Homo sapiens: one gene and its partners. The protein of the gene in region 1 purifies or fractionates together with the protein of each later gene. This does not show direct contact. Each region holds a gene or a part of one and is shown on either strand. Other genes may lie near its edges. The genes, in order: PRPF38B, SRFBP1, KNOP1 and ODF2.

Region 1 (6,008 bases):
TATGTCTACCCAGTCTACTACTTTGTGTTTTAAGGTTCATAAGACTTTTTGAGTGCTATGTGTCAGTAGTCTATTTACAGAGTTCATCCAAAGAATTTATTGAATTAAAGGATGGTTCTAATGGAAATCTATTGTGTTTTGTTATTACATGCACACCTAAAAAAAAAAAAAATCTCATTTAGACATGGAGAATTTTTATTTTTCTCTTTTTTTTTTTTTTTTTTTTTGCCTGTTAACTGAGTTACTTCACTCAGAAGAAGCAAAACGTGTTTTAAATCACAATCTTTAAGGTCTTTTTATCTTTAGATCAGTTTTTCAGACTGAAGTGCTTCTCCCTTCTGTCTTTAAAAAAGCATGTTCCTCTTCATAATTGGTGTTGTATTGGTTTTGTTTCTGGATGCCTCTATTTTATGTTTTTTATTGTGTTTACAAATCTGAGGTCCTCTATTTAAGCTAACTTATTGTTTTCTTCCTTAGATATCTGCAGCGATTATATTTGGAAATACTGTATATCTGAACACTTAAATGTGTGTGAGTGCAAGCAGTTTTACCTTTAGCTCTTGTTTTCCTGTTTAGATAACAAATCTCACTTTCCTTGTGTGCTTGCACTATAGGTTTGGGACTGACAATAGCTGACTAACATGTCCTGAGCTGTGAGAGGGCATAGCAAGAAGGCCTTCATGCGGTAATGACCCTTTTCAGAGACAATGGTCATCATGGATTATGCGTTTCCAATTATTTGTTCATTTATTTATTTTCTACATAACTAAATTAGAAACCTCACTGCTTCATGGCAGTTGGTTTGCTATTGCTTCCAGTTTTATTAGGGCTTCATTTTATATTAGAGCTGTTAAAAGATAACCTTTAGACAGGAATTATCTAAAGTAGATCATATGTAGCTAGGTTATGGTGCAAGGTATATGATGTGTGCAAATATGTCCACAGAAATAAATACATAGTAGGTATGTGGAATGTAAATTTAAGTCAATCGTTCCGCATAGTTTAGAAATGTAAGGGGCTTTTTCATATTGTTAACTGAGTGAGATCAGTTCCCTTTATGCCTGTGAGGCTGCAGGGTTTGTTCTCACTTGCATGCACACACTAAGCCCAAATATTTCTGTTCATTCATTGTCAGATCAGGATATGAAAATAAAATTTTTCTGTTAGTTTTTTTTGTATTGAGATTCCAAAGATGGTAATATTTTTATAATATTCATGTATATATGGAAATACTTTTTTTGACGGCTAGGGTATCTTTTGTGTTTCTGTAGGACCTAGATGTGAAGGCTGGTGGAGGCTGTGTAATGACCATTGGAGAAATGCTACGATCTTTTCTCACAAAACTGGAGTGGTTTTCTACCTTGTTTCCAAGAATTCCAGTTCCAGTTCAAAAGAATATTGATCAACAGATTAAAACCCGACCTAGAAAAATCAAGAAAGATGGGAAGGAAGGTGCTGAGGAAATAGACAGACATGTTGAACGCAGACGTTCAAGGTAATGTCACTCTTGAATTATGCTTATTTTTCATATATGCTTTATACAAAATTAATGGTTCTGAGAAATAGCAAGTTCTTAGGAATTTGTTTTTACTGTTCATTTTATTAGTTTGTCACTTTTACCCCCCAAAGATTATTTTCTTCCTTTCAGGGCTTTTTCTATAAAATTATGCATCTGTAAATGAGAACAATAAAATTTTTTGCTTTAATGATTCTTGACATGGCCTTAAGCTTGAGGACATGAATAAATAATGCTGTTGAAAGTTTTACTGTGAAAAGAATTGCATATGTTTTATTCATTGAAATTTTCTTTCTCCCTCCGCCTTCCTTAGGTCTCCAAGGAGATCTCTGAGTCCACGGAGGTCCCCAAGAAGGTCAAGAAGTAGAAGTCATCATCGGGAGGGCCATGGGTCTTCTAGTTTTGACAGAGAATTAGAAAGAGAGAAAGAACGCCAGCGACTAGAGCGTGAAGCCAAAGAAAGGGAGAAAGAACGGCGAAGATCCCGAAGTATTGACCGGGGGTTAGAACGCAGGCGCAGCAGAAGTAGGGAAAGGCATAGAAGTCGCAGTCGAAGTCGTGATAGGAAAGGGGATAGAAGGGACAGGGATCGAGAAAGAGAGAAAGAAAATGAGAGAGGTAGAAGACGAGATCGTGACTATGATAAGGAAAGAGGAAATGAACGAGAAAAAGAGAGAGAGCGATCAAGAGAAAGGTCCAAGGAACAGAGAAGTAGGGGAGAGGTAGAAGAGAAGAAACATAAAGAAGACAAAGATGATAGGCGGCACAGAGATGACAAAAGAGATTCCAAGAAAGAGAAAAAACACAGTAGAAGCAGAAGCAGAGAAAGGAAACACAGAAGTAGGAGTCGAAGTAGAAATGCAGGGAAACGAAGTAGAAGTAGAAGCAAAGAGAAATCAAGTAAACATAAAAATGAAAGTAAAGAAAAATCAAATAAACGAAGTCGAAGTGGCAGTCAAGGAAGAACTGACAGTGTTGAAAAATCAAAAAAACGGGAACATAGTCCCAGCAAAGAAAAATCTAGAAAGCGTAGTAGAAGCAAAGAACGTTCCCACAAACGAGATCACAGTGATAGTAAGGACCAGTCAGACAAACATGATCGTCGAAGGAGCCAAAGTATAGAACAAGAGAGCCAAGAAAAACAGCATAAAAACAAAGATGAGACTGTGTGAAAATATTTTGTAAAAGTGGATCACATTGAATCCTATAAATGATTAAATCTGCTTTTTTCCCCCACGTTGAGATTGTGCAGTAGTTCGCACTCCTCAAGCTCTCCCTGTAGGCTGCATTTTCATTTCCTCTTTCGTGTAGGGAAGTGCCTTTGTAATTCCATTTATTGCATTGGTGTTTTCACCCAATTGTTAAGTTTGATACATGATGCACAGATTGTTCTTGCATTTTTATTGTTTGTTTTTGAAATGTACAGTCTGTACATATGTCCTGAAAATGTTTTAATTCCTTTGGCATGGTTGCCATGTTGGTTAAATTTGTATAAGGCAATAAACTGCCACTAATCTATTTTTGTTTTGTAGGTGTGGGATTATGGTTTGTGTACTGAAGTTAGCATGGCTGTGCTTTTCGTAATAGAATGCTAAAGACTTTGAGAATGGATCTTGGATGTCTATTATAGGAGAAGTATGTGCTGCCAATGTACAAGAAGGCAGCATTGTAGGATTAACATTCTTGTCTACTGTATATTATCTTGGAAGGCTCTTGTTAATATGTTACACTTAATATTCTCCACAGTTACCTTTAGAGAGAATTTATGAGAAGTTAGTTTCTGATGCAGAGGTTTTTAGGCTGTGATTTCATCAAAAGTCCTTTTAGCATTCTACCTCAAAGGGACACTTAGTATGCCTAAAATTTATTCACTTAGTTTTCCTTTTTTATTTGAAAAAATACATGACATGTAATCTTTTTTTCTTGAATTCTTTCTCAGATTTTAAAGTACTATATTAAAGAAAAAAATTAATGTCTAAAGCCTAGCATTCTTGCAGAACCCTATACTAACATGTAATGGGGAGAGGGTGGGGCAGATGAGTAGAGAAACAGATTCAAGCCTCAAGCTTCCAAAGCATTTTTATAAATGGAAAATCCTTAAATTATGAAACAGCTTGATATAGTGTCCTTTTTTTAAAATTCAGAACTTTTTTTATTGATAATGGAGATTGCTGTTTGAGTTTTTAAACTTAATCTAGAACAGAGGAGTATTAAAAGTAATGCTGTGCTGCATTATTTAAGACTATCAGCAAATTATTTGATAGATTGTTCTTACAACTTGTATTCTGATTACAGAACCATCATGAGTGTGGAATAAATACTGGATTAAATCCTTTATCCTGGGTCTTGGCTTTTCCCCCATTTGTTAAATTTTTTTAGCATATTTATATTGTGGAAATTGATGAAACGTCAGTAGAGTCACACTTTGTGTACAGGGATGTCTTAGTGCCCAGATGACAAGTGAATTTTGGAGAAATGCATAGACTGGGATTGGGCATGTGGTAATCAATAATCTTTATTAGAATACTTGATAATGGCAGTTCCCTTTGTCAGTGGTTGTTACATGTGTCATTTGATTACTTTGTTCCATGTCAAAGACGTTTATTGGGATACCTTTTACTTGGACAATATGTTAGCATTTTTTAAAATTTGGACTTGAAATTCTTTAAGATAATTCACCCAATTCTTTTTAGAAAAGAAAATAGAGGCCCAAAGTAATGATGTCAGTGCTAGGGCTAAAACTCAGTATTCTGACAGTGTAGTGAACCTGGCACGCACATTGAGGTTTGTTTTATCTCACTGGTTATACTGGCCAACTAATGCGCACTCAGAAGCCACCTTGCAAAAATGTTAAATGGAGCAAACGAGTACACTTGCAAGAGTCCTCCATATGTGGGCTTAACATATGTACCACTCCATTTTAGAAAAATCTCATTAAATGAATTCTTCTAAAAATGATATGCTTTTTTCTTTTTTAAGAAAATTCCTTTGTCTTTTAAATTGAGCATCAAGTGAATTAGTGCTATAGACACCCAGAAGTTAGAAAAACCTATTGTATAATATGAAAGCCACTAAATTTGTCTTGTGTTGAAAATCTACTTTTAGCATACCTAAATTATGGAGCTACTACTTTGGATATGGTTCCATGTGAAATGTTTTATCTGACTATTTTAAGTAAAATGTGGAAAGAATTTAAATTACTTCACATGGAGGTGAAAGAACTATCACCTCGATTGACAGTTCGATGATCGTCACTACATTTGATTTCTTGTGGGTTTTTAGTTTGTTTTTGTTTTGAGACGGGCCTGGCTCTGTCACCCAGACTGGAGTGCAGTGGTGCAATCTCTGCTCACTGCAGCCTCCACTTCCCTGGCTCAAGTGATCCTCCGAACTTGGCCTCCTAAGTAGCTGGGACCACAGGTGCATGCTAGCACACCCGGCTAATTTGTATTTTTGGTAGGGTTGGGATTTCGCCATGTTGCCCAGGCTGGTCTTGAACTCCTGGCCTCAAGTGATCCACCCACCTCAGCCTCCCAAAGCGCTGTGATTACAGGTGTGAGCCACCACTCCAGTCCCTTCTTACGATTTTTAAATATGTTTGCTTTTGAGGAAAATTATGGTAGGTGTGAGAACATGTAAATTGTGCTAGTTATTGCTATATATATGCATGATTTATTTGGAGAGTGGCTTCCTAAGAAACTGGGAAAACAAGTGGCTATGAAAGACATCTCACATTTCTTGAAACATGAGAACATTTGGACACGAACATCACACGCCGGGGCCTGTTGTGGGGTGGGGGACTAGGGGAGGGATAATATTAGGAGAAATACCTAATGTAGATGACAGGTTGATGGGTGCAGCTCACCACCAAGGTACATGTATATCTAGGTAACAAACCGGCACGTTCTGCACATGTATCTGAACTTAAAGTATAATTTAAAAAAATTTTTAATACAGCTTAATAAGCATCCTCCATCCAGTTTTTGTACTTACTGGAATGATTTCACCTTTCCATGTATTAAAATCTTTTGCCTGTTTTTAATGTTCAATTTGCAATTAAATTCTATACATGGGCGAGTATATCATCAATCTTAAACTTTTAATATAAAGTGTTCATTTTAATATTGCCCTGTTTTTATCTCCTAACTCTGATTTAGTTCCTCAGTTCCTCTAAGGCAATGGTTGTTTTGAGTTCTGGGCCCACTTTTTAGTAATCTGATGAAAGCTACCATCCTGTCTAAAAAAAAGTACCCCACTAGGTGCAGTGGCTCACATCTGTAATCCCAGCACTTTGGGAGTCCGAGGCCAGTAGGTCACCTGAGGTCAGGAGTTTGAGACCAGCCTGGCCAACATGCTGAAACCCCATGTCTACTAAAAAGTGGAAAATACGGGCCGGGTGTGGTGGCTCATGCCTGTAATCCCAGCACTTTGGGAGGCCAAGGCGGGCAGATCACAAGGTCAGGAGTTCGAGACCAGCCTGGCTAACACAGTG
Region 2 (4,272 bases), on another chromosome or scaffold:
ATAGTAAATTAACAAACACCATGATGAGTCAAGAGACGCTATGGAAGAAACTTTTTTTTTTTTTTGAGACGAAGTTTCACTCTTGTTGCCCAGTCTGGAGTGATCTTGGCTCACGGCAACCTCCGCCTCCCAGGTTCAAGTGATTCTCCTGCCTCAGCCTCCCGAGTAGCTGGGATTACAAGCATGCGTCACCACGGTCGGCTAATTTTGTATTTTTAGTAGAGACGGGGTTTCTCCACGTTGGTCAGGCTGGTCTCGAACTCCCGACCTCAGGTGATCCGCCCGCCTAGGCTTCCTAAAGTACTGGGATTACAGGCATGAGCCACCACCCTCCGCCGGAAGAAACGTTTTTCCTGCATTTTGAATAAAGGGGCCTGGATTTTCATTTTGCACTGTACCCCAGGTATTATGTAGCTGGACTTGAAGTCCTGTAGCAGTGGACAGTCCCAGGCAAGTGACTCTGGGCGAGGCACTTGGTGCCTCTGAAGTCACTTTCCACATCTGTAAAATAATAGTTCAGAGCAGAGTAGGGTGGCTCACTCCTGTAGTCCTAGTTATTTGGAAGGCTGAGGTGAGAGGATGGCTTGAGCCCAAGAGTTTGAGGCTGCAGTGAGCTATGACTGTGCCACTGCACACCAGCCTGGATGACAAAGAGAGACTGGGTCTCTAACAAAATAATATTAATAAAAGGAAAATAATTTCTATCTTGTTGGATTTCTGTGGAGATTTGGAGCTAATTTATGTAAAGCTCTTGGACCACCATTTGACACATTTTAATGGTCAATACTAGAAGGTGTTGACAATTATATATTACCTAATTCAAACACACTCCCTTACGTCTCCTATGCTTGCCGGCTAATAAACAGCCATTCCCACAGGCAGTACCAAATGTGTATCCTGGTTTTGCTTCAAATGTTTATTCCCTAAATTTAAACCCTTCTATAGTGTGCAGGAAAAAAATGTCCGCACCTCAGCTATAATGTCAGGTTGTAACAAAAAACTGCGAGGATTTAAAAAGGTGTGCTTGTTAGAAAAGCAGAAATCTTCACAAATACTAGATTTAAAAAAATGGAAGCAAAAAATCGTTCATTCAAGTGATCATTTCAGAAGAGCTCTTTCACCGCCGTTCAGCGCCCCCCTAGCCATTAGAGAGAAAAACCAAGGCCGGTACAATGCGAGCGCAGTGTACCAAGGGAACACACACACACACACACACACACACACACACACACACACACACACACAAACCGAATCTTGAAAAACTAGACGTTGCCCAGCTACCAGCCCCCGTCTGGTTTCCATAGGAACGCGCAATTCCGTTGCGTAGCCCTCTGCGCCGGTAGTTGTTCTGTCTCAGTTCCGGTTTTCCCTTCCAAGCGTCAATGTTTCTTGTTCCCAGGCGGCAGCTAGAGCAGAAGGCGGATGAGTTTTGGACAGAAGAGGCTTCCGTTGAGGGGCGTGGCGACGCAGCCGCGGTCTGAGAGACCGGTTCACGTGCAGGCAGCGGCGGATCATATTCCTTCATCTACCATGGCTCAGCCGGGAACTCTGAACCTCAATAACGAGGTGAGCGCCGAGGAACCTATGGGGCTGACTTTAAGGGTCCTCAAAACCAGCTCTTTTGAGACGCGTGGTCGGAGGCGGGCATAGAGGGTGCGGTTGGAGGAACTTTCGTGGTGGGCCCAGGCGGGTTTCCCGCAACTTGGAGTTTGGCAACCGGTAATTTCCCTTTTCGGTCTCCAGGTGACTAAAGTGAGAGACATGTGTCAGGCCCCACGAATTTATGTCTGTGGGACTTTGGGAAGAACCTTTAGCCTGTACGTTCAATATTCTCGTCTGTAAAGCGGAACTCAAGATAGTTCGTCCCAGGGTTGTGAGATTAACTGAGATACGTAAAGTATTTGCAAGTGCCTGACCCTTAATAAACTTTCAGTACACATTACCTGCTCTTTATTGCCTGTCGAAAATGAAAGAGAGAAAGTAAGAGCTGTAGCTTCTAAGAAATTGGTGGTCTTGAATGAGACTGTATGCTCAGTACTTCGTTTCCTCTTCCAGTTAGTGTCCTATTTCTTTGCTTCCGTTTACAGCAGAACTTCAATAAAGAGCTGTTTATACTTGCTATCCTCAATTCTTTTTTCTGCTTTTTCAGTCCATTCTCATCAGACATTTGTTCTCACCACCGTCACTTCCATAGTGTGCGGTGTCGACAAAATACCATTTCTACCACTTATCCCCCTCTGGTTTCTGCTTCTATTCAACAAAATAATGTCATCCAAAGTCTTAAAGTAAGCTGGAAACATAAGGATCGAGTAAGGACCTCACAGTTAGATACAGAAAGGAAATTCTTTATCCCGTTTATGAGCAAGTCACTGTTTAGATTACACACAGTAGTGTAAGGGATATTTCATATTTTCTAGTAACCTATACTCAAGTAAGAGAGCTAAGCAACACTCACCTGTGTTACAGAACAATGTGTGAAGAATGCCTCCAAAACCTAGTAATGCAGAAAAGTTTCCAAAGGCGGCAAAATGAAATGGGTGATACTTGTCCTTGGTCTTTAGGGATCTTGCACAGGAATTGCAGTCAGTGATTCAGGAAAGGGGAAGAAGTCATTCCAGGCAGAGGGACTGGTATAAGCAGGAAAGGGCTAGTAGCAGAAGAACCCGTGGGTAATACAGGGATAAGTAACTCTTCACTGATGGGAACTTGTGAGATGAAGAAGGAAATAAAACTGAAATATATTCTCTGCTGCCAGATTAACGAGTCAGGATTTCAGTTGACAGTGGAGTACAGGATATGCTGAAGAGGGAAGCTGAAAGTAGTTACTATTTACTCATAAACATACATTAAGCTTGTGCTTTGTGCCAGAAAGCGTTTGGTGGGCTATTTTGCATTAGGTTACCTGTGATGTATGAAAGATCAGAGTAATGTCCCTGGGATTTCAACCCCAGGGAGCTTCATATCAAATTTTGTAATGACTTTGATGATGGAAATGACAGGGGATGAGTCATTAAAGACTCTTTTCACACTTAGCTAACTTTTGTTCTTCTTCAAAACAGTTAAAATTTGACCTTTAGGAAACCTTCATTAACTCCTCTCGGTCTGGGTTAGGTGTCTGTTCTTTGTGCACCCAGATTGCTTTCTCCTCTGGAAACACTTATGTAACTGTTTCTGTCTTCCTGTGTTTATGTGTCTATCATGTGTAGCACATATGTTTACTAGGTGATTACATGAATTTGTGAAAGCAGGAACTACACACATCCACCACTGAAGTCTAGTGTGTTCTAATGTGAAGGAGATAAAAAGGACAGAAAAAAGTGGAGATGATGGAGGATATTATAATTTAAAATTAGTGGGAAAAAAAACCCACAAAAGGAAAGAGAGATTTATCTACATAAAAATTGAATAACCTACCAAAGAAAAGAAATGACAACCAACTAGAAAAAAAAAATACAGCAGATATGACAAAGGGCTAATGCCCTTAATAGGAAATACCTCATAGAAATTAAAAGAAACCATCTCAGAAAATAGGCAGAAGAAATGAATTAACTTCTTCAAGGAGGAAATGTATCTGAAAAATAATTTGAATTCGCTTTCAATCTTTTCAATTCTTTTCCATCACCACTAGAATCCTAGTACAGCTACTGTACTAGCTTCCCAACTACTTACATTGACTCTTCTCAAACTTTAATCTTTTTTTTTTATATGTATACTTTAAGTTCTGGGGTACATGTGCAGAACGTGCAAGTTTGTTACATAGGTATACATGTGCCATGGTGGTTTACTGCACCCATTAACCTGTCGTCTACATTAGGTATTTCTCCTAATGCTATCCCTCCCCCTTTCCCCCCACCCGACAGGCCTTGGTGTGTGATGTTCCCTTCCCTGTGTCCATGTGTTCTCATTGTTCAACTCAAACTTATGAGTGAGAACATGCAGTGTTTGGTTTTCTGTTCTTGTGTTGCTTTGCAGAGAATGATGGTTTCCAGCATCATCCATGTCCCTGCAAAGGACATGAACTCATCATTTTTTATGGCTGCATAGTATTCCATGGTGTATATGTGCCGCATTTTCATTATCCAGTCTATCATTGATGGGCATTTGGGTTGGTTCAAAGTCTTTGCTGTTGTAAACAGTGCCACAATAAACATACATGTGCATGTGCCTTTGTAGTAGAATGATTTATAATCCTTAGGTATATAGCCAATAATGGGATTGCTGGGTCAAATGGTATTTCTATTGCTAGATCCTTGAGGAATCACCACACTGTCT
Region 3 (4,080 bases), on another chromosome or scaffold:
CACCAGTCCCTGAGCCGTGGGGTAACCTTGTAGTCACTTTACCTGTCTGAGTCTCAGTTTCTTCATCCGTCAAATAGTTTAGTACTACTGTTTTGCGGGAGAATTGTGGAAGAGAAGGGATGGGAAGGGCTTTGCTGACTGAGATGTTTCTAGGTGGCAGGGCTGGGGGTGATGCCGTGGTCTGAGGTCTTTTCTGGACTTTGTCATGGTCTCACCCTGGCTGGGTGCAGAGGCAGAGGCCATTCATTGTAAACTTGAACCTTAGCCAGCTCTGCCCTCTCCTGCAGGAAACAGACACGGACTTAGAGGTGGTGTTGGAAAAAAAAGGCAACATGGATGAGGCGCACATAGACCAGGTACAGCCCAGACCCTCCTCAGGCCCCTCCCGCTGCCTCCTGCCACCCTTGGAGTCTCACTTGCTGCCTGCCAGGCTGGCTAGGTGATCCTGGTCTCAGGGGCACCAGGGACTCCAGAGGCCACTGGGCCAGCTGCCAACGCACACCTCCCGGGCCGGGAATGCGTGCTTTCCCCATCCTCATGCTGGGGGCCCTTCCGGCTGCCGTGGCCATGGCCGAGAGGCCCGACTGGCCATTCCCTGTTACTTGCTGCAGGATGTGGGGGACATGTCCCTAAGACCCTGCAGCTGGGCAGGTGACACATGCTGCCACCCCCTGGGCTAATTCAGGAGCATTTAGAGGAGAAGTTTTGTTGTGAATCAGCTTCCGCTTCTGTCGTTCCCATATCCCGTGGCAAATGCATCCCTGTGGGAAGTGGACTTTCTGGCCTTGGGGATTTTTTTTTTTTTTTTTTTTTTTTGAGACGGAGTCTCACTCTGTCCCCCAGGCTGGAGTGCCGTGGCGTGATCTTGGCTCACTGCAAGCTCTTAAGCCTCAGTTTCTAGGAAAATTCATTCTTAAGAGGCTAAAGAGGATAAATGAGCCTGCCCAGTGTAGGCCAAGGGGCGCAGCCCTTGAGATGCTAAGAGAATACTTATGATAGCAGCTTCCCATTGTTTGTAGCAGAGTCAAGCTGTGTTAGTTCCTCCCACGTTCCGTTCCCCCAGCCCCGTCTCTGTCCTGGGTTTTAAGCTTGAAAGAAGATCTCTGTCTGACGGCCCTCTTCTGTCATCCTTCTTGCTCAGGTGAGGCGAAAGGCCTTGCAAGAAGAGATCGATCGCGAGTCAGGCAAAACGGAAGCTTCTGAAACCAGGAAGTGGACGGTAAGTTTGGGGCTAGGGCTCTGCGAGGAGGTGGCACGCTCGGCCTCCCGACGCTTCCCCTCGCCTCCAGCATGAGGAGTGGAGCAGGAGAACCAAGTATGTCCAGGCCCCAGAGGCAGCCCTAGCCTGCAGCAGGCTCCCTCCACAGCAGAATTTGTCCTGAGCTAATTTCCTTCCTTCTGAAAAGGGCGCTTGCCTCCCTCCTAGAGAGCTGGCCCGGTGAGATAAGCTGCCTGAACCTTTGTCTCAGCCCTGGACTGGTGGGGTGTCCTAAGGATTAATCACTGAGGACACATTCCAGCGAGCTCTTGCCAGTGGTGGACGATGCCTTTGGAGGGCTGCTAGGAACAGGGACAAGAGGCAGAGGGGAGGGAGTGGTCGCGGCCCCTCTCAGGCCTGGTTTTCAGATCCAGTCTGACTGGGAAATGTCCAAGCCGGGCCTGAGAAGATCTCTCAGGAGGGAGGAGGGTGCGAGGATCATGAGGCTGGAGAGTGTGAGGTTGTCAGGCTGGGGCCCTGGCGGAGTTCAGTGGGGGCTCTGTGCTGGGTGCTGGACATGGAGCAGATGAAGCCCATGTGATCCCCATCATCGCGCTCACGGTCTAGAGGCCAGAGCGGGGTGAGCATGGCAGGGAAATGGTTAGCAAACAAGGAAAGGAAGATCAGTTGAGGTGGCAGTAGCGGTCAGGAGAAAGAAACAGAACAGTGAGCTGGAGAGGGGCTGCAACAGATGGGCGAGGGCTGGGAGGTGGCAGCGCTTGTCCAGAGATGTTCAGGGTGCAGAGGCCCCAGCCCTCAGGAGACAGGGGGAAGAGCGTTTCAGTGAGGCCAGTGGCCGGTGCAGACCCCTAAGGTAGGAAAGGGCCTGGAGTGATCTGTAGGGAAGGCCAGTGAGGCGGCACTGCGGCTGGAATGAGGGACGAGAGGGCTACAGGCCACAGGCCTCGGCCTCAGCGGCCATGATAGAGAGCTGGCCTGGGATCTGGCTAAGTGGGATTGGCTGGAGGGCATTGACTCGGCAAGCGGGAAGACCTGGTAGAAGGCTCAGCCTGCAGGCCGCAGCCTGAGGATGGTGGCAGAGGATAGAGAGAGAAAACAGCTTTGTGATTTACTTTGGAGGCACAGCTGGCAGGACTTGTTCATAGATTGGATTTTGGGGAGACGAGAAGAAAGGTCTGGGTGACCAGCGATGCTGGCCTTCAGGCTCCGTCAGAGCATTCAGAAAAGAACAGTCGATTCGGATCAAAAGATCTGATTTCACTACTGGCTCTGCCACTGTCTAGTGGTGGGACTCTGGCCAGGTACCTTCCCCTGAGCCTGTAAAATGGGACTCGTACCCTGGCCTGGTGGGGTATGGAGTGGGGCTTTGTTATGGGTCCTGCCTTGGGGTGCCCTTTCTCTCCATGCCACCCTGCTGAGCTGAGCCGAGCTGATGGGACATCCAGCTTGAATAGGGAGGGCAAGAAAAAAGGCAGTGTGATTCGGAGCCGATGTCCCGGGGGGCTGTCCCTGGAAGGACCTGACGGCAGGAGAGTGATCCTGGGGCACAGGGGCTGGGACATGCCATGCCACTGAGACGTGGTGAAGTGGTCCTCTGGGTGGGCAGCAGCCGTTGGAAGTGCTGGTTCACGCAGGACCAGCTAGCAGTCTCCTGCTCTCCCCAAAACCCATGTGGGGTGGTCATAGATGGCCTCTCACTCTAGAAACTGCAGGGCAGGGGAGCTGTCATTATTCCTGCATCTGGGCCACCATGAAGCTGGGAGAATGTGTCACCGGTTCACTCAGGGCAGCTGTAGTGACAACTGGTTCTTATTTTCCCAAAGCCAACCCAGAAATAAGTGCTGGGCTGGCCTCTGGCTTGTGGGCGGGAAGTTCCCAGGCAGCGTCGATGTCAGCAGTCTGGTTGGGGTAGGGGGAGAGGAGTGGCCAGTCACTGAGGGCTTGAGGTGTGCCATGCATCGTGCACTGGGCTTTTGGTGTCAAATCTGACGTATGTCTCACTGAAGCCCTGTGAGGGGGATGTTATCACCCCACCTTAGAGATGAGGGCACCAAGGCTTAGAGAGGTTAGGGGACTTGAGCAGGGTCACCCAGGGGAGGCTTCCTCCCGGGGCTGCCTGACTTCCGAGTCACAGTCTTCTTGGGAGGTGAGTTTCTTTCCTCTCCCACCGACCTGGGAGAAGGGGGTCTGGAGGGCTCTCCTGCATTTTCTTGCACATGGGTGGTAGCGCACTCTGGCTGGAATGGGGACCCCCGAGTTCTTGGGCTTGGCTCAGTCTGACTTGGCTGTGTGACCTTTTACCCCTGTGGGCCCGCACCCGTTCCCGCCATAAAACAGTGCTTCTGAGAAGCACACTTCAGATTCCCACTCGCCCTCTCCCACCCTCCAATTCACCCAAACGTTAGGCTGCTGGGTGAGTGCGCCCGGCTGCTGGGCTGTGGGGTGCCCTGTGTTGCAGGGGAGGTGCGCCCTGTGGGGAGGTGGGGGAGGTGTGCTGTCTTGTGAGATGCATGGTGGGGTGAGGTGCGCTGTGTAGGGAGGTGGGGGGAGGTGCGCTGTATAGGGAGTGGGGGAAGTGCTATGTAGGGAGGTGGGGGAGTGTGCTGTGTAGGGAGGTGGGGGGAGTGCGATGTGTAGGGTGGTGGGGGGAGTGCACTGTGTAGCGTGGTTAGGGGAGGTGCGCTTTGTAGGATGGTAGGGGGAGAGTGTGCTGTGTAGCGTGGTGGGAGGAGGTGCGCCATGTGCGCCGTGTAGGGAGGTGGGGGGAGTGCTCTGTGTAGGGTCGTGGGGGGAGTGTGCTCTGTAGAGTGGTGGGGGAGTGTGCTGTGTAGGGAGGTGGGGGAGGGGAGGTGCACTGTGTA
Region 4 (4,428 bases), on another chromosome or scaffold:
TCCCCTCTGAAAAGCATAATGCCACTTCCAGCCCCATTGCCAAATCCTAGAGGTGGAAGGTCCCAGAGAGGTGGCCTGCCCAGGTTCTCTCAGCACCTGAAACAGTAGCTGTCTTTTCTGCTTTCATTCTTGTGTCTGCCCCTTTCCACTTGCCAGTGGCTTCCTGTGGCCCTGAGAGGCCCTAACTCAACCCTGTCCTTCATGGACGGAAGGGGAACAGCCCCTGGAGGTGGAAGTTTGAGGAAGATATGGAAATGAAGACCAAAAGCTGCTGTATGCATGTGGGGTTCTTGTTTGATATCTTACAACTCCTGGAATATAAGATCAGCTTTGGGAGAAAGAAGGTCTAGGTTTTTTTCTTGCCTCTATTACTAAAAGTGATCAGCCGGGCGCGGTGGCTCACGCCTGTAATCTCAGCACTTTGGGAGGCCAAGGCAGGCGGATCATGAGGTCAAGAGATTGAGACCATCCTGGCCAACGTGGTGAAACCCCATCTCAACTAAAAATACAAAAATTAGCTGGGCATGGTGGCACGCTCCTGTAGGCCCAGCCATTTGGGAGGCTGAGGCAGGAGAATTGCTTGAACCCTGGAGGCGGAGGTTGCAGTGAGCTGAGATTGCACCACTGCACTCCAGCCTGGCGACAGAGCGAGACTCCGTCTCAAAAAAAAAAAAAAAAGTGATCTATTTTTATTTAGGGAAATTTGAAAATACAGAAAAATAATCAGCTACTCAATTCTGGCTGCTATTAAGTTTCAAAATTTCTTGTTGAAAAGTACAGGCCCAGGAGCAATGGCTCACTCCTGTAATCCCAGCACTTTGGGAGGCCGAGGCAGGCAAATCAACTGAGATCAGGAGTTTGAGACCAGCCTAGCCAACATGGCGAAACCCCGTCTCTACTAAAAATACAAAAATTACCCTGGCGTGGTGGTCGCGCCACCAATATCAGCTACACAGAAGGCTGAGGCAAGAGAATTGCTTAAGCCCATGAGGCGGAGGTTGCAGGGAGCCAAGATCGCGCCCCTGCACTGCAGCCTGGGCAACAAAGCGAGTCTCCATCTCAAAAAAAAAACAAAAAAAACGGAAAAGAAAAACGAAAAGAGGACTGGCCGGGCCTGGTGTCTCACGCCTGTAATCCCAGCACTTTGGGAGGCTAAGGCAGGCGGTTCACCTGAGCTCAGGAGTTGGAGACCAGCTTGGACAATGTGACGAAACCGTATCTCTACCAAAAATACAAAAAATTAGCCCAGTGTGGTGGTGTGCACTTGTGGTCCCAGCTACTTGGGAGGCTGAGGTGTAAGGATGGGTTGAGCCTGGGAGGCAGAGGTTGCAGTGAACCAAAGTTGTGCTACTGCACTCCAGGCTGCTTGACAGAGTGAGACCCCATCTCAAAAAAAAAAAAAATGGAAAAGTGCAGGGATGTACACCCATCAGAAGTGTATTGCTCCATGAATTTTCACAAGCTGAAGGTACCTGTGTAACGATCACCCAGCATCCTAGAAGCTGCCCCTGGCTTTTGTCTATGTCACTCCCTCCCCATCACAAGGAGTAAGTAGTCACACTTTCCCATATATATATATATATATATATTTGTCATTTTAAAAAATATATAGTCATGTGGCCGGGCGTGGTGGCTCACGCCTGTAATCCCAACACTTTGGGAGGCCGAGGCGGGCGGATCACAAGGTCAGGAGATCGAGACCATCCTGGCTAACACAGTGAAACTCCGTCTCTACTAAAAGTACAAAAAATTAGCCGGGCATGGTGGCGGGCACCTGTAGTCTCAGCTACTCGGGAGGCTGAGGCAGGAGAATGGCGTGAACCTGGGAGGCGGAGCTTGCAGTGAGCCGAGATTGCACCACTGCACTCCAGCCTGGGTGACAGAGCGAGACTCCATCTCAATTAAAAAAAAAAAAAAAAAAAAAAAAAAAAAAAAAAATATATATATATATATATATATATATATATATATATATATATAGTCATATATCAATTAACAATGGGGATATATTCTGAGAAACATGTTGTTAGGCACTTTCATCATTGTGCAAACATCATGGAGTGTACTTACACAAACCGAGATTGGTAAAGCCTGCTACACACCTGGGCTGTATGGTATAGCCTATTGCTCCTAGGCTACAGACCTCTACAGCATGATGCCGTACAGAATACTGTAGGCAACTAACACAATGGTAAGTATTTGCATATTGAAACATAGTAAATATAGAAAAGGTACGGTAAAAATACGGTGTTTTGGGACCACTGTCATATATGCAGTCCATTGCTGACTGAAATGTTACGTGGCACATGACTGTTTATACATTTTCCTATTTTTGTCATTTTAAGTATTAAAAGTAACTTCTTTTCTTCTAAAAGTAATATACATACCTGGATGTGGTGGCTCATACCTGAAATCCCAGCACTTTGGGAGGCCAAGACGGGCTTATCACCTGAGGTCAGGAGTTCGAGACCAGCCTGGCCAACATGGTGAAACCCCACCTCTACTAAAAATACAAAAATCAGCTGGGCATGGTGGTAGGTGCCTGTTATCCCAGCTAGTCGGGAGGCTGAGGCAGGAGAATTGCTTGAACCTGGGAGGCGGAGGTTGCAGTGAGCCGAGATGGCACTACTGCACTCCAGCCTAGGCGATGGAGTGAGACCCTGTCTCAAAAAAAAAAAAAAAAAAGCAAAGTGTTTACAGCTTTGCATAAAGTTTCCTGAAGCATATATGCATTTTAAAATATTTAAAAAAATATTTAAAAAGCTGAGACTACAGGCACCTGCTACCACGCCCGGCTAATTTTTTTGTATTTTTAGTAGACACGGGGTTTCAGTGTCTCGATCTCCTGACCTCGTGATCCGCCCGCCTTGGCCTCCCAAAGTGCTGGGATTACAGGCATGAGCCACCGCTCCTGGCCCTAAAATATTTTTTATACTGACGTATTTAAAAAGTATTGTATTTTTTTAATACAATACTTTCCAGGTATTGTACCATGTGCATTTATAATATTTTTCTACATCATCAAAATAACTGATTACTCCTAAGAGCATTTCTTAATATCATACAATATCTGGTCCTTTTTCCAATTTACCCACTTGTTTCTACAATACCTTTTCAGCAGATTCATCTACCTTTGTAACTAATCCACTATCAGCTATTCATATTCATTTAAAAGACTTTTGACATATTTCATTTCTACCCTAGGTATAAAAAAATGTACTGCCCTAAACTTTTGCCAACTTTGGGTATTATTAATGTTTTTGCTGATTTGTTATATTATTTCTTTATGAGTATTGTTATTTTTAGAGACAGGGTTTCGCTCTGTCACCCAGGCTGGCATGCAGTGGTGCTATCATAGCTCACTGCAGCCTTGAACTCCTGGACTCAAGGAATCCCCTGCCTCAGCCTCCTGATTAGTTGAGATCACAGGCATGTGCCACTACACCCACCTGATTTTTTTTTTTAGAAGGAGTTTCGTTCTGTTGCCCAGGCTGGAGTGCAATGGCGCAATCTTGGCTCACTGCAACCTCTACCTCCCGGGTTCAAGCGATCCTCCAGCCTTAGCCTCCTGAATAGCTGAGATTACAGGCATGCACCACCATGTCCAGCTAAGTTTGTGTTTTTAGTAGAGACGGGGTTTCACCGTGTTGGTCAGGCTGGTCTCAAACTCCTGACCTCTGGTCATCCACCCGCCTCAGCCTCCCAAAGCGCTGGGATTGCAGATGTGAGCCACCATGCCCAGCGCTAGCTAATTCTTTTACTTTTATAGAGACAAGGTCTCGCTATGTTGCTGAGGCTGGTTTTGGCTTCCCGCCTCGGCCTCCCAATATACTGGTTTTACAGGGTATCCAGCCTATGTTCTTTATTTTAAACTTAACATTGTAGCCCAAGCTTTTAATTTTGATGTTGGGAATTCTCCAAAACCATCATTTAAACATGGATAGGTAATGTTCCATCACAAGGGTTCAGAGTATGTTCTTCCTGGGGTCCCCGAGTTAGCTGTTACAGCTTTTCCCGTCTAATCAGTAAATAAGCCTCCAGTGGTGGAACTCGTGGTCAAGGTTCTGCCTTCTGAGTTCATGTGTTTCTCCCTCCTCTACATCAGAATCCACCTCATTGCCTGGAGATCACGCCACCATCTTCAGAAAAGCTGGTCTCAGTGATGCGGTTAAGTGACCTCTCTACAGAAGATGATGACTCAGGTCACTGTAAAATGAACCGTTATGATAAGAAGATTGATAGTCTAATGAATGCGGTTGGTTGTCTGAAGTCTGAGGTGAGGGAGGTAGGGGGCTGGGATAGCTACTACCCTGAGGATGTGCAGGAGCACCCAGGTGGATTTCCTGCCTGGTCCCTCAGCCTGCGTCTGCAGGCCTTCAGGCCTCCTCTGCAGGGTTGCCCCGGGCTTCAGTTGCCTGCCCCGGGAGG

Evidence for each region.
Region 2: the proteins of PRPF38B (region 1) and SRFBP1 purify together in Homo sapiens (co-immunoprecipitation; one large-scale study listed by IntAct). This does not show direct contact.
Region 3: the proteins of PRPF38B (region 1) and KNOP1 purify together in Homo sapiens (affinity purification with mass spectrometry, with the first as the bait; one large-scale study listed by BioGRID). This does not show direct contact.
Region 4: the proteins of PRPF38B (region 1) and ODF2 purify together in Homo sapiens (co-immunoprecipitation; one large-scale study listed by IntAct). This does not show direct contact.

The regions. Positions count from the first base shown.
Region 1 is NC_000001.11:108,697,333-108,703,340, forward strand, and holds the end of PRPF38B (pre-mRNA-splicing factor 38B), read left to right. Parts: intron 1-228; exon of another isoform or gene 229-477; coding exon of another isoform or gene 478-517; exon of another isoform or gene 518-525; coding exon of another isoform or gene 526-531; exon of another isoform or gene 532-685; intron 686-1,271; coding exon 1,272-1,495; intron 1,496-1,829; coding exon 1,830-2,688; 3' UTR 2,689-5,596; downstream 5,597-6,008. UniProt on the Homo sapiens protein: May be required for pre-mRNA splicing.
Region 2 is NC_000005.10:121,960,503-121,964,774, forward strand, and holds the start of SRFBP1 (serum response factor-binding protein 1), read left to right. Parts: upstream 1-1,472; 5' UTR 1,473-1,530; coding exon 1,531-1,566; intron 1,567-4,272. UniProt on the Homo sapiens protein: May be involved in regulating transcriptional activation of cardiac genes during the aging process. May play a role in biosynthesis and/or processing of SLC2A4 in adipose cells.
Region 3 is NC_000016.10:19,707,648-19,711,727, reverse strand, and holds part of KNOP1 (lysine-rich nucleolar protein 1), read left to right. Parts: intron 1-287; coding exon 288-356; intron 357-1,141; coding exon 1,142-1,219; intron 1,220-4,080.
Region 4 is NC_000009.12:128,465,078-128,469,505, forward strand, and holds part of ODF2 (outer dense fiber protein 2), read left to right. Parts: intron 1-3,847; exon of another isoform or gene 3,848-4,105; coding exon 4,106-4,276; intron 4,277-4,428. UniProt on the Homo sapiens protein: Seems to be a major component of sperm tail outer dense fibers (ODF).